Regions from separate parts of the Homo sapiens genome. Here region 2 is linked to region 1. The links come from fine-mapping of genetic effects on gene expression. Tissue or cell type: whole blood. Region 1 holds a variant in brackets; the other region holds the start of a gene. All regions are shown on one strand. Distances are from middle to middle.

Evidence for each region. PIP is the estimated chance that this variant, and not a neighbour inherited with it, causes the effect.
Region 2: it holds the start of RGS3, and the variant in region 1 is fine-mapped to the expression of RGS3 in whole blood (TOPMed, PIP above 0.99).

Annotation. Positions count from the first base shown.
Region 1 is chr9:113,592,357-113,597,555 of GRCh38, forward strand. RGS3 (regulator of G protein signaling 3) reads left to right here. Exons shown (of 23, transcript NM_001394167.1): 20 at 2,074-2,175; 21 at 2,563-2,624; 22 at 3,243-3,409; 23 at 4,412-5,199. The coding sequence ends at 4,597. Among named protein-coding and RNA genes, the nearest start is that of RGS3, 130 kb to the left of the region's middle. The variant G/A (reference allele first, on the strand shown) is at 3,044.
Region 2 is chr9:113,461,550-113,466,659 of GRCh38, forward strand. RGS3 (regulator of G protein signaling 3) reads left to right here and starts at 2,178. Exons shown (of 23, transcript NM_001394167.1): 1 at 2,178-2,332. The coding sequence starts at 2,254. RefSeq lists enhancers at 1,081-2,035, 2,036-2,990.

The DNA.
Region 1 (5,199 bases):
ACTGTTGAATGTGGTGCTGGAAGTGGGAGGTGTAGGGAAGCAGTGTGTGGCGCAGAGGGCAGGCATCCCGGGTGCTGGAGCAGCCCTGTCTAGCCTCCTTTCAATGTAGGTGCTGCCTTTTGAATTGCCTGAAGCCCACACTTTTTTTTTTTGGAGACAGAGTCTCCTTCTGTCACCCAGGCTGGAGTGCGATCTTGGCTTGCTGCAACCTCCGCCTCCCAAGTTCAAGCAGTTCTTGTCCCTCAGCCTCCCAAGTAGCTGCGATTACAGGTGTGTGCCATCACACCCAGCAAATTTTTTTTGTACTTTTAGTAGAGATGGGGGTTTTGCCATGTTGGCCAGGCTGTTCTCAAACTCCTGGCCTCAAGTGATCTTCCCGCCTCGGCCTCCCAAAGTGCTGGGATTACAGACATGAGCCACCATGCCTGGCCTCTGAAGGTCATACTCTTAAAAGCTTAGACGAAGAGTCTTAGAACATCTACGGTAATAATAAGAATAACCATTAATGTTTATTATGCCCCGCACTGTTCTGTGTGTATTTCATATGTAATCTAATTTAATCTTTACCACTACTTTTATTTTCCGTTCTGTTCTTTCTTATTGACCTTACCCTTATTTTACACGTGAATAAACTACTGTGCAAAGAGGCTAAGTTACATGGCAAGAAAGTGGTGGGGTTGGGACCTGGAGACCTGGCCTGCTGGCTTCTGTTTGAGGAAACAGCTTGACAGAGAAAAAACCTTGATAGGAAACTTGAGAGATCAGGAAACGTGTCAAAGGGCACACAGCTGGTAACTGCTGGAGCTGGGATTTGAACCCAAGACTAGCTCCAGAGCCTGGGATCAGCCTCCCCTGCAGGACTCTCCTTCATTAGACAGGGTGTCTAGGTCTTAGTGCCATTTTAAGCTTGAATAGCATCAGAAGTATAAATGCTTCAAACTTACCAAACCCCCTTGAAAGTTTAATTATTAAATTTCTTTTGCACGTCTTTAGTTATGTGATTTTTGAATAATCAATTTTTCATTTTCATTTTTGGTTTGAGTCAGCATTTTCCATCTTTGGGAGGATGGAGACCAAAACTTAAAGTGAAACATTTATTATTCGAAAATCACAAAACCATGCACACAACATTAAATAATTAAACTTTAAAATGGTGTTTTTGTAAGTTTATAGGACTTGTACTTCTGAAGTTATTCAGGCTTAAAACTACTAAGATGTTGGGGTCCTGCTGTATATTCATGACTGGATGTCGCCAATGCAGGTGACTGAGGCTGAGAGGCCGGCTGGCAGGAGCCATTCTCTGGGAGGTGCCCTGTACAGGGGGTCTAGGGAAAAGAGGGGCGAACATGAGCAAGAGGCATTTAACTCCTTTCTTGCCAGCAGTTTCACCCAGTGCTGAATTCTGCTGCCTCCTTGGGGACCGGCAAGGCTAAAAATGGTTCTTGGCTAAAAATAGCCAGTCCTGCCACCCCGGTGGTGGGCAGTGCCTCCCCTGGCTCCCTCCTTCCCTTTCAGCAATTTGCTGACTTGTCCCCCACCCCCCACCACTGTCTCCCTGCTGCCATGGTAACGAGGAGGCCAGTCACAAATAGCTGGGACTGGCTTCCTGCCGGGGCGGCCCCAGAGGCTGTCCCTTGCAGACACATGCCCCTTTCACGGCTCCCTCTCAGGGTTGGCCAGAAGGAATTTTTTTTTCCGCTCCCCCTCCTGGTCCCTCCCATTTCCTGGCTCCTCCTGTCTGAGTCCCAGCCCCGGCTTGTGCCTGGGAGTCCAGTCATCAGGCCAGGATTCCAGAGAGCGTGTGTGGCTGCAGCCTGCACCGTTGCTGCCCGCTGCCCAGGACGCGGGGTGGGGGACAGGAGCCAGAGTGGTGCCTCCTACAGACCAATCTGCGGCCCCAAGGTGGGGGGCCCTACAGAGATGCTCCGAGGCATGTACCTCACTCGCAACGGGAACCTGCAGAGGCGACACACGATGAAGGAGTAGGTGCCCTCGACCCAGCTCTCCCGACTCTGGATTTGCAGGGGCGAGTGGGCCAGGCTGAGCAACCCTCTTTTCTGCTTCTGTCCCCAGAGCCAAGGACATGAAGAACAAGCTGGGGATCTTCAGACGGCGGAATGAGTCCCCTGGAGCCCCTCCCGCGGGCAAGGCAGACAAAATGATGAAGTCATTCAAGTAGGTCCTCCCTGGCACCCTGGGACCCTTTGGGGAACTCACTGGCTCCCCGGGGAGTAGGACTGAGTGGTAGGGTTGAGGGGAAGGGGCTTGCCGGCTTGATCCAGCTCTGGGGGAGACAGGCTTTCACAGAGGGAGCTGGGTACCTGGCAAGCAGCTACCCTCACAGGGAGCAGCTGCCCTAGGGGGAAGGCTAGGTGGGGTGGAGATGGGGGCTGGAAGGGACCCTGGCCCCGGGAAAGAGGGTGGGCCTCCTTCCTGGGCGCCCCAGCTGGGCTCAGCTGCAGACTGGGCCCAGGGCAGTAAACAAAGGCCGCCTGGCCCAGCTTCCCCCAAGGTTCCCAAGCCTCTCAGTGCCCTCACTGTGTTTCCTCCCTCACCCCTCAGGCCCACCTCAGAGGAAGCCCTCAAGTGGGGCGAGTCCTTGGAGAAGCTGCTGGTTCACAAATGTAAGTTGGGCCTGCCTGCCCACTCCCTGTGCCCTCTCTCCCTCTCCCCTTCGCCCCCATCCAGACCCTGTGTAGCTGGTGCTAGAGAGGCCGCCTTCCCTCTCCTCGGCCGTCAGGGTGTCCTTGCTGTTGCGGAGGGGCTGAGCCCAAGCTGAGGCCCTTGGTCTGGCCTTGGAGCCAGCTTCTGCCAGCCCCTCCCCGTCCATGTGAGCTGGCACTGCCTGCCGGAGGCCCGTGGGACCTGTGTGCTCAGATCCATATTCCCAGAATAAGAATAAACATTTCTACGTACTGAGGGCTTTCACGGCGCCAAATGTGCCTGCCATCTCATGGGCAGGGTCCCATCGGCTCCTCCCAGGGCTCCGGGAGACAGAATCGATAGTCCCCATTTCACAGATGAAGACACTGAGGCATAGAGA[G/A]GGGGAGACCCCACTGAGACCCTGAAAGAGGCAGTGGCAGGGCTGGGGCCACATCCCAGGGCTCCTGGCTGTCGGGGACGGGCATTGTACTCAGCTCCCAGCACGCCCATCTTTAAAGTCCTGTAGGGGTAAGCTGAGGCATCTTAAGGGCAGGAGAGGCTGAGTTTGCCTCTTACCCCAGGATCCGTTCTCCTCACAGACGGGTTAGCAGTGTTCCAAGCCTTCCTTCGCACTGAGTTCAGTGAGGAGAATCTGGAGTTCTGGTTGGCTTGTGAGGACTTCAAGAAGGTCAAGTCACAGTCCAAGATGGCATCCAAGGCCAAGAAGATCTTTGCTGAATACATCGCGATCCAGGCATGCAAGGAGGTAGGACCTCAGGGCAGACCCTCCGCTCCTCCAATCCCCAGGGCCCAGTGGCCCTTCAGCTGCAAGGTGGCAGCCAGCAGCACAGGAAGGGGAGAGGCCAGAATGACTCCATGAGCCCAGGTACCCAGCAGGGAAGATGCAAGCTAGGATCAGGGGAAGAACAGAATCCCAGTTAGTAATAAAAATGGCCACCACCAAGGCACTGCCGCATGCCAGGCATGTGCTGAGCCCTTTATGTATGCGTTCTCATGTTTAATCCACACAACAACCTGTGAAACGAAGAGACAGGCTGGGCACAGTGGCTCATGCCTGTAATCCCAGCACTTTGGGAAGCCGAGCCAGGCGGATCACTTGAGGTCAGGAGTTCGAGACCAGCCTGGCCAACAGGGCGAAACCCCATCTCTACTAAAATTACAAAATTAGCCAGGTGTGGTGATGGGCGCCTGTGGTCCCAGCTACTCGGGAGGCTGAGGCAGGATAATCGCTTGAACCCGGGAGGCGGAGGTTGCAGTGAGCCGAGATCGCACCACTGCACTCCAGCCTGAGTGACAGAGACAAATCATAATTGCTCCCATCTATTGAGTGCCTACTGTGTGCCAGGCACTATGCGCAAAGCACATTATATGGATGATCTTGCTTGGTTTTCACGCTTTGAGGAATGTACTATTATTCCTAGCTGGTAGATAAGACAACTGAAGCTCACCGCACTTAAGTAATTTGCTTCAAGTCACACACCCAGGTGTGGCACTGCTAGGATTTGAACCCAGGAAGCCTAACCCTCAGGGTGGTATTTTCAGCCTTATAAATGCTGCCAGCCCTACAGGAAATGACTGAGCCAGGACTTGAATCCTCTGGTCTGAGGGTCTCTACTTCAGATGAACCTTAAGATGTGGGGCAAAGGGGCTTGGAGGTGAGAGGCTGGATGGGTCCCTTCCAGGCACATGGGCCCTAGGGTCAGTCCCCAGCAGGCAGCCCTGACCATGTCCCCCTCTGCCTCCCCAGGTCAACCTGGACTCCTACACGCGGGAGCACACCAAGGACAACCTGCAGAGCGTCACGCGGGGCTGCTTCGACCTGGCACAGAAGCGCATCTTCGGGCTCATGGAAAAGGACTCGTACCCTCGCTTTCTCCGTTCTGACCTCTACCTGGACCTTATTAACCAGAAGAAGATGAGTCCCCCGCTTTAGGGGCCACTGGAGTCGAGCTCAGCGTTCACACCAGGCGGGCTGGGTCCCCTGCCCACCTGCCTCCCTGCCCCCTGTGACGGAGGGGGCAAGCAAGCCCCCAGAGGCTGTGTCTCTGGACAGACGGATAGACATACGGAAGCGAGGCCTGGACCAAGAGAGGCCCAGGCTACTGGAGGAGTAGAAGGATGGGCCCCGTGGGGTCCCCACTGCCCCGGTACGAGGGGGCCCAAGACCCTGGCAGGTCAGGGGCCCTGGCCAAGCCAGATCTGGAGCTGCTGCTCCCTGCTGCGGAGACCGCGGAGGCTTCGCGTTGACCAAGTTCCTTAAAGAACTGGCTGATGGGGCAGGAGGTCCAGGCCTGGGCTCTCGGGCCCTCCTAGAGGGCCATTGGAGCTTGCAGCTCAGACCCCCACTTTGAGTTTTATTTATTTAAATAGTAGTTGGATGCTTGGCACGTCGTCCTGTAATAGGAAACCCTTGCCTCATCAGTTTTCCTGATTTACAAGTGCAATATTTTAGCCAATGCCTTGGGAGAAGCTGCCATGCAAAGGTGGACACCATTCTCCAGCTTCAGGGGATATGCTCGTCCCGGGCACCGGTGG
Region 2 (5,110 bases), 130 kb before region 1:
GCCAGCTCAGGATCAGGCTGGCCTTGCAATCTTCCAACTGAATATGTTAGCTGCAGAGTGGGGCAGGAGTCAGGAGGGGACCTACAAAGCAGTAGAATCTTTGTTCCCATTACCGGGTGTAAGTGCCCAGTGTGGGCCTCGGTCTTTTCTCTCCTAGGTCACATTCAGACAGCACACCTTTGCCCAATTTTCTTTCTGGATCTCACCGTCCTGAGTGTTGTACCTGCAGGTTGCTCACAGCCTCTGGAGCCCAAGATAGTCTCCCCTTTGGGAGGAGGCTCTACAGTGGTCCCTGGCGAAGTTGTGAAGAGGTGACTATCATCTCAGGCACATCACCTTCCCTTTTCCCTGTGGGCCTTCCTTTGCTGTTTCCTGAACACCATGCTTTCTAGTTCCTACTGGGAGTGAACACACCTTGCATGGAGCATCTTCAGGCCATGGCTAACTCATGCTCCCATCTTGCTCCTGCAGGTCTGCCACGTCTCTGTGCTCAGTGTCCTCTCTACATCCTGTGGCTTGAGCCTGAGCTTGCCCATATTCCCTGGCTGGATGGAGTGGCTAAGCCCTGATATCGCTCTGCCCAGAAGAGATGAGTGGACTCAAACTTCTCCAGCCAGGAAGAGGATCACGCATGCCAAAGTCCAGGGTGCAGGTAAGTCCATCTGTCACTGGCTTGAGGCTAGGAGAGTGGACCTGCTCTTGTTAAAGGCAGTGTTCACCATGTGTGTGTGTAACCGGGGTTGGAGGGGGAGAGTGGGGTGGGGTGGGGGGGTGCAGTAAAGAGCAGGGCAGGACTTCACGAAGTGCCAGGATTCAAACAATCCTACGGCATTTATGTGATTTATCACCAGTTTGCTGATTCAGGGCTCCTTCTGCAGTTTCTGCTCCTCGCTGGTGGCCACCTGACCCTGTGGCGTTTGCTCCTTCCACCTGCTGTTGGCCATGGGGCAGATGTGGAGGCCAAGGAAGAATAGGACAATGGCGTTTGGGGCAGACAGGCCTGGGTTCAAATTTCAGCTCTGCCTATTCCTAGCTCTGCAAACCTTGGGCATGTCACCTGTCTTCTCTGCCTGAGGTTCAGATTTCTTCCTGGTAAATTGGGGCTAATACTTATTAGACTTACCGTGAAGATTAACTGAGATGATGTGTGTAAATTGCCCAGCTCAGCTCAGCCTCTGGCATCTGGTACTCAACACATAACTCTTCTCTCCACTTTCTGTCTTGCATCTCCCCATCTTGTTTTTGAGTGGATCACTGAACCACAAATATCCACTTGGCGATGAAGTCTGGGGAACAGGGACAAATACCAACACTTCCCATTTTTAGATTTACACGAGACTAACAGCTTTCCTTCCCACAGTGGCAACAGAGATTTGCAGAGCAGATGTCTTGGTGTGAAACTGCTACGAGGAGGTGTCCTGTAAATGTTTGCTGACAAAGCAGCAAAGCAGGGTTTGACCTTCCAGCTCTGCCTCCCCGCACCAGGCTGGGGGATTCACCCACCCCACTCCGTTTCCTGTGCGTTCCTCTTTCTCAGAGGCTGTGGGCCTGTCCTGCTGTCCGATGGCATCAGGCTGTGGGACGGGGGGCCATCAGGTTGGTTGGAGCAAGCTGCTCCCATCCGGACCTGTGTCAGGCAGCACTTGTTCAAGAGGAGGCTCAAGAGAGTGATCCAGGATGCAGGGTTTGGGAAGAGGATGCAGCATGGTGGGGGGCGACCTGTCCAAGCGCAGAGAACACTTTTCCAAACCTCACTGCCCTGGGCCATCGGGTGCTCCTTTGCCTTTGCTTGGATCTAATGATTATAGGCCTGAGCTTCAAAGCAGGTTATAAACCCGACTAATTGCTGGTCTAGGAGAGCTGGACGAGGAGGCCAAGCCTGCCCAGAGTGGGCACCCCGGACTGGGCCTTCTCGTGGGACTGGCATTTCCAACCGGGAGCGCGGTGCTGGGGCCGGGATACCCGGGGTGGCCGCACCGTCCTGCTGGCTCCTTGGGTGGCTGCCGTCGCTGCTCAGCGCGGGTCGGCGGCGCCGCCTCCCCCACCCCGGCCCAGCTCTGCTCCGGCAGGTGGAACTCTCCCCATTCAAACCCGCGCGGGCCAATCAGGGCCGGGCGCGCCCTGGCCGTTCCAACGCTTGGGGCAGCCCTACCTCCCGCTCGCGCTCCTCCCGCCCTGGAGACTCCGGTTACTGGGGAGCAACACAGCCGCCTCGGGTTGCAGACGCTCCTGTCCGGGTCGCAGTGGGACGCCATGGAGCGCTCCCTGCACCGCGTCTCCCTCGGGAGCCGGCGTGCCCACCCGGACTTGTCCTTCTACCTCACCACCTTTGGTAAGTGCCCGCTGGGGCTGGCGGCAGGGGCTGCTTCACCCTGCTCCCAGCGCCCAGAAACGCAGCCCCTCGTGGTGACAGGGGAGGCTGGGAGCAGGTGCTCTTTCTATCTAGGGGCACCTTCTCTGGCCCCTTTCTCCTGTGACTGCCCAGGAGGGGCTCAGGGCACAGGCTCAGTCCAAGCAAGCTGCTGGACACCACCTGCTGCCCGGCCATGAGTGCCAACTGCGGTTGGTTCTGCCTCACTTGGCTGGAATAATCACGCTCTGGTTAATCTTTCAGAGACCTGGGTTGTCACCACGGAGTTTCTCATTAGCAAGCAGCTCAGGTTAAATCAAGGTCTTGTTATAGCAACTGGAGATCTCATTCACCCACTTTCCTTTGGCTCAGGGAGCGGACAGGTGCTGGGCCCTTTGGCCCTGCTGCCTTGTGGGGAGGCTGCAATTTGACTTTGTTGGGTATCTGAGCCACAGTGGAGATGGGAGAATTCTCTCCTCCAAGAAAGAACAATCCCTTAGGAGGGTCCCAGGGCTGCCTCAGGGTTTGAGGTGGAAAGAAGTGAACAGTAGGCTTCACTCCCAAGCCCCTAAGTAGCAGACTGAGTTCCCCCAAATAACAGCTGGGCGGCAGCTGCCCAAAGGTCTGGGCAAACCTGGCCTTCCTGGTAGCCATAGTAAAGGTAACAACCCTACCCTTGAGGGTAACCCTTCATTTCCTCACTGGTCCTGCAACTCTCTGTGGAGAGGGGTTATTTTTCCTCTGTGAAGACTTGAAACCAAGAGATCTTCCATGAGCCAGTGGCAGAGTTCGTAGCTGAGCTCAAGCTTTCCAGAGATGACCTGTCCAGCGCATTTTTGTTTGAACTTGCATACAATTTCCTTCTAAAGGTTGGGGCTGTTACTGAAACATTACTGGACATTGCCCAGCTTTCAAAGACAGAGTGCCCAAGGAGTTTGGTCCCTCCCTGGGGTTCCTGGCTCTTCTGTTTTCAGGCTTACTCCTGCTCAACATATTTGGTTTTCCACAACCTGCTTTTTTTCCTTAGGGGTAGAGGGAATGATGGAAGAGCAGTGGCTTGGCCTCTGAAATTGCCTGACGTCTGGCAGCAGGAATTCACTGGTCTAGTTGGTGGACGATAAAGGGCAATTAACTAGCCATCATTTGTTGAGAACTTACCATTGCCATTCCTTATGCCAAGTGTTTTACCTGCATTATCTCACTTAATGCCCCAGCGTAGGAGGCAATTCCTGCTAACCCCATTGGGATGCAGGGCTCTGTGAGACAAGGGTGGTTTCCAGGATGATCTGTATTGGCTGGGGTAGGAGTGATCAGGAAAGGGTGTCAGGGAGCTGTGAGGCCCTCTTACCTTAGCTGTGTCCTGATTAAAAAGTAAAAATATGTTTGCTTTTTTCCTCCTTATTATCATGGTTACATGTGTTTACTGCTGAAAACTTAGTGAAAAGAAGAAAGTGAAAATCACTTGTAATCTGACTTCCCAGGGAGACCACTGTTAACTTTCTGATTTATATCCTCCCAGGCTTATTTCCACACCTATTTCTGTGTGTGTGTGTGTGTGTGTGTGTGTGTGTGTGTGTGTGTGCCTGTGTGTATTTAGGGGTCAAATTTCAACACAATTGAGATCAAGTTTGTATGGACAATTTTGTAACCCATATGTTTTCCTTAGTGGCCTGATGTGAATATTTCCTTGCATTGGTCCATGTTCTTCTATTAGATTAATCTGCCTGCCAGATCTGGGAAGCTGAGGAGGGTTCAGGCCCAGCAGGGAGTGGATCTTCCTGCCCAGCCATGGCCTCAGGGCTGAGTCTGATGGGTATCAGGGAAGGCTGCTGCTTGAACAAGTGACTGTGACCTGAGTGTGCAGGAGGCAGACAGGAGCCTGGGTGGGGTGGGAAGCCACCTGCTCTTATTCGTGCAGGCTCCTCTCACATCTCTCTAAGGATGCTTATGAGAGCATTTGAGAAATTCTCTCCTGTTTCCTGCACTGGCTCTGTTTCCCTGGGTGCCATTTGTCGTGGTGCCCCTCTTTCAGGCTGCTGATTTTCTTTATCCACTGTGATCTTCACTGATCTGCTTATGAGCAAAGATTCCTATCAGTGGTTTCCAAACCCAGCCAAATATCAGAAGCATGTGGGGAGCCTGTTAAAAATACACAGATTCCTAGAATCTTCTTCTGGAGACTCTAGTTTAATAGGTCTGGGGTGGAGCCTGAGAATATGAACACTTAAGAAGCCATAGAGCGTTCAGACTGTCATCCAGGTTTGGAAGCTATGGATTCAGAGTCAGTTTTGGTAGCAATTGGGACCACTTTTACTGTGAAGGTTTTGGCTAAGTTTTTCTCAGTTCACTGGCCTTTCCTTAGCAAAGTAGGTAGCCCCTGGCCTTCTACTGTGAGCTTTGCCTTGGTAGAACCAGATGAAGATGTTGCTTAGCTGGTAGTTTCCTGAGCACAGACATGTAAAGGGAGCATAATCATCTATGGAAATATAAAGAGACAAAACTGTTTTGATGAGAATTCCCTTCGGGGAGAGTACTGCATGATATATGTATTTGTGTGTACACATGAACACAACCCCTTGTCCCCCAAAAGGAGTATGTTCAAGTGACATTAATTGAAGGACACTGCGTTCTGAGGAGGTGGCCTTACTTCAGGGGAAGGGAGTAGGCAAGCTGAGGCTAGGACCCAACTACTCTAGAGGGATTTTTTTTTCTTTATTGTGAAAAATGATGTAATTTGAAGTCATTGTAGGTATACATAAT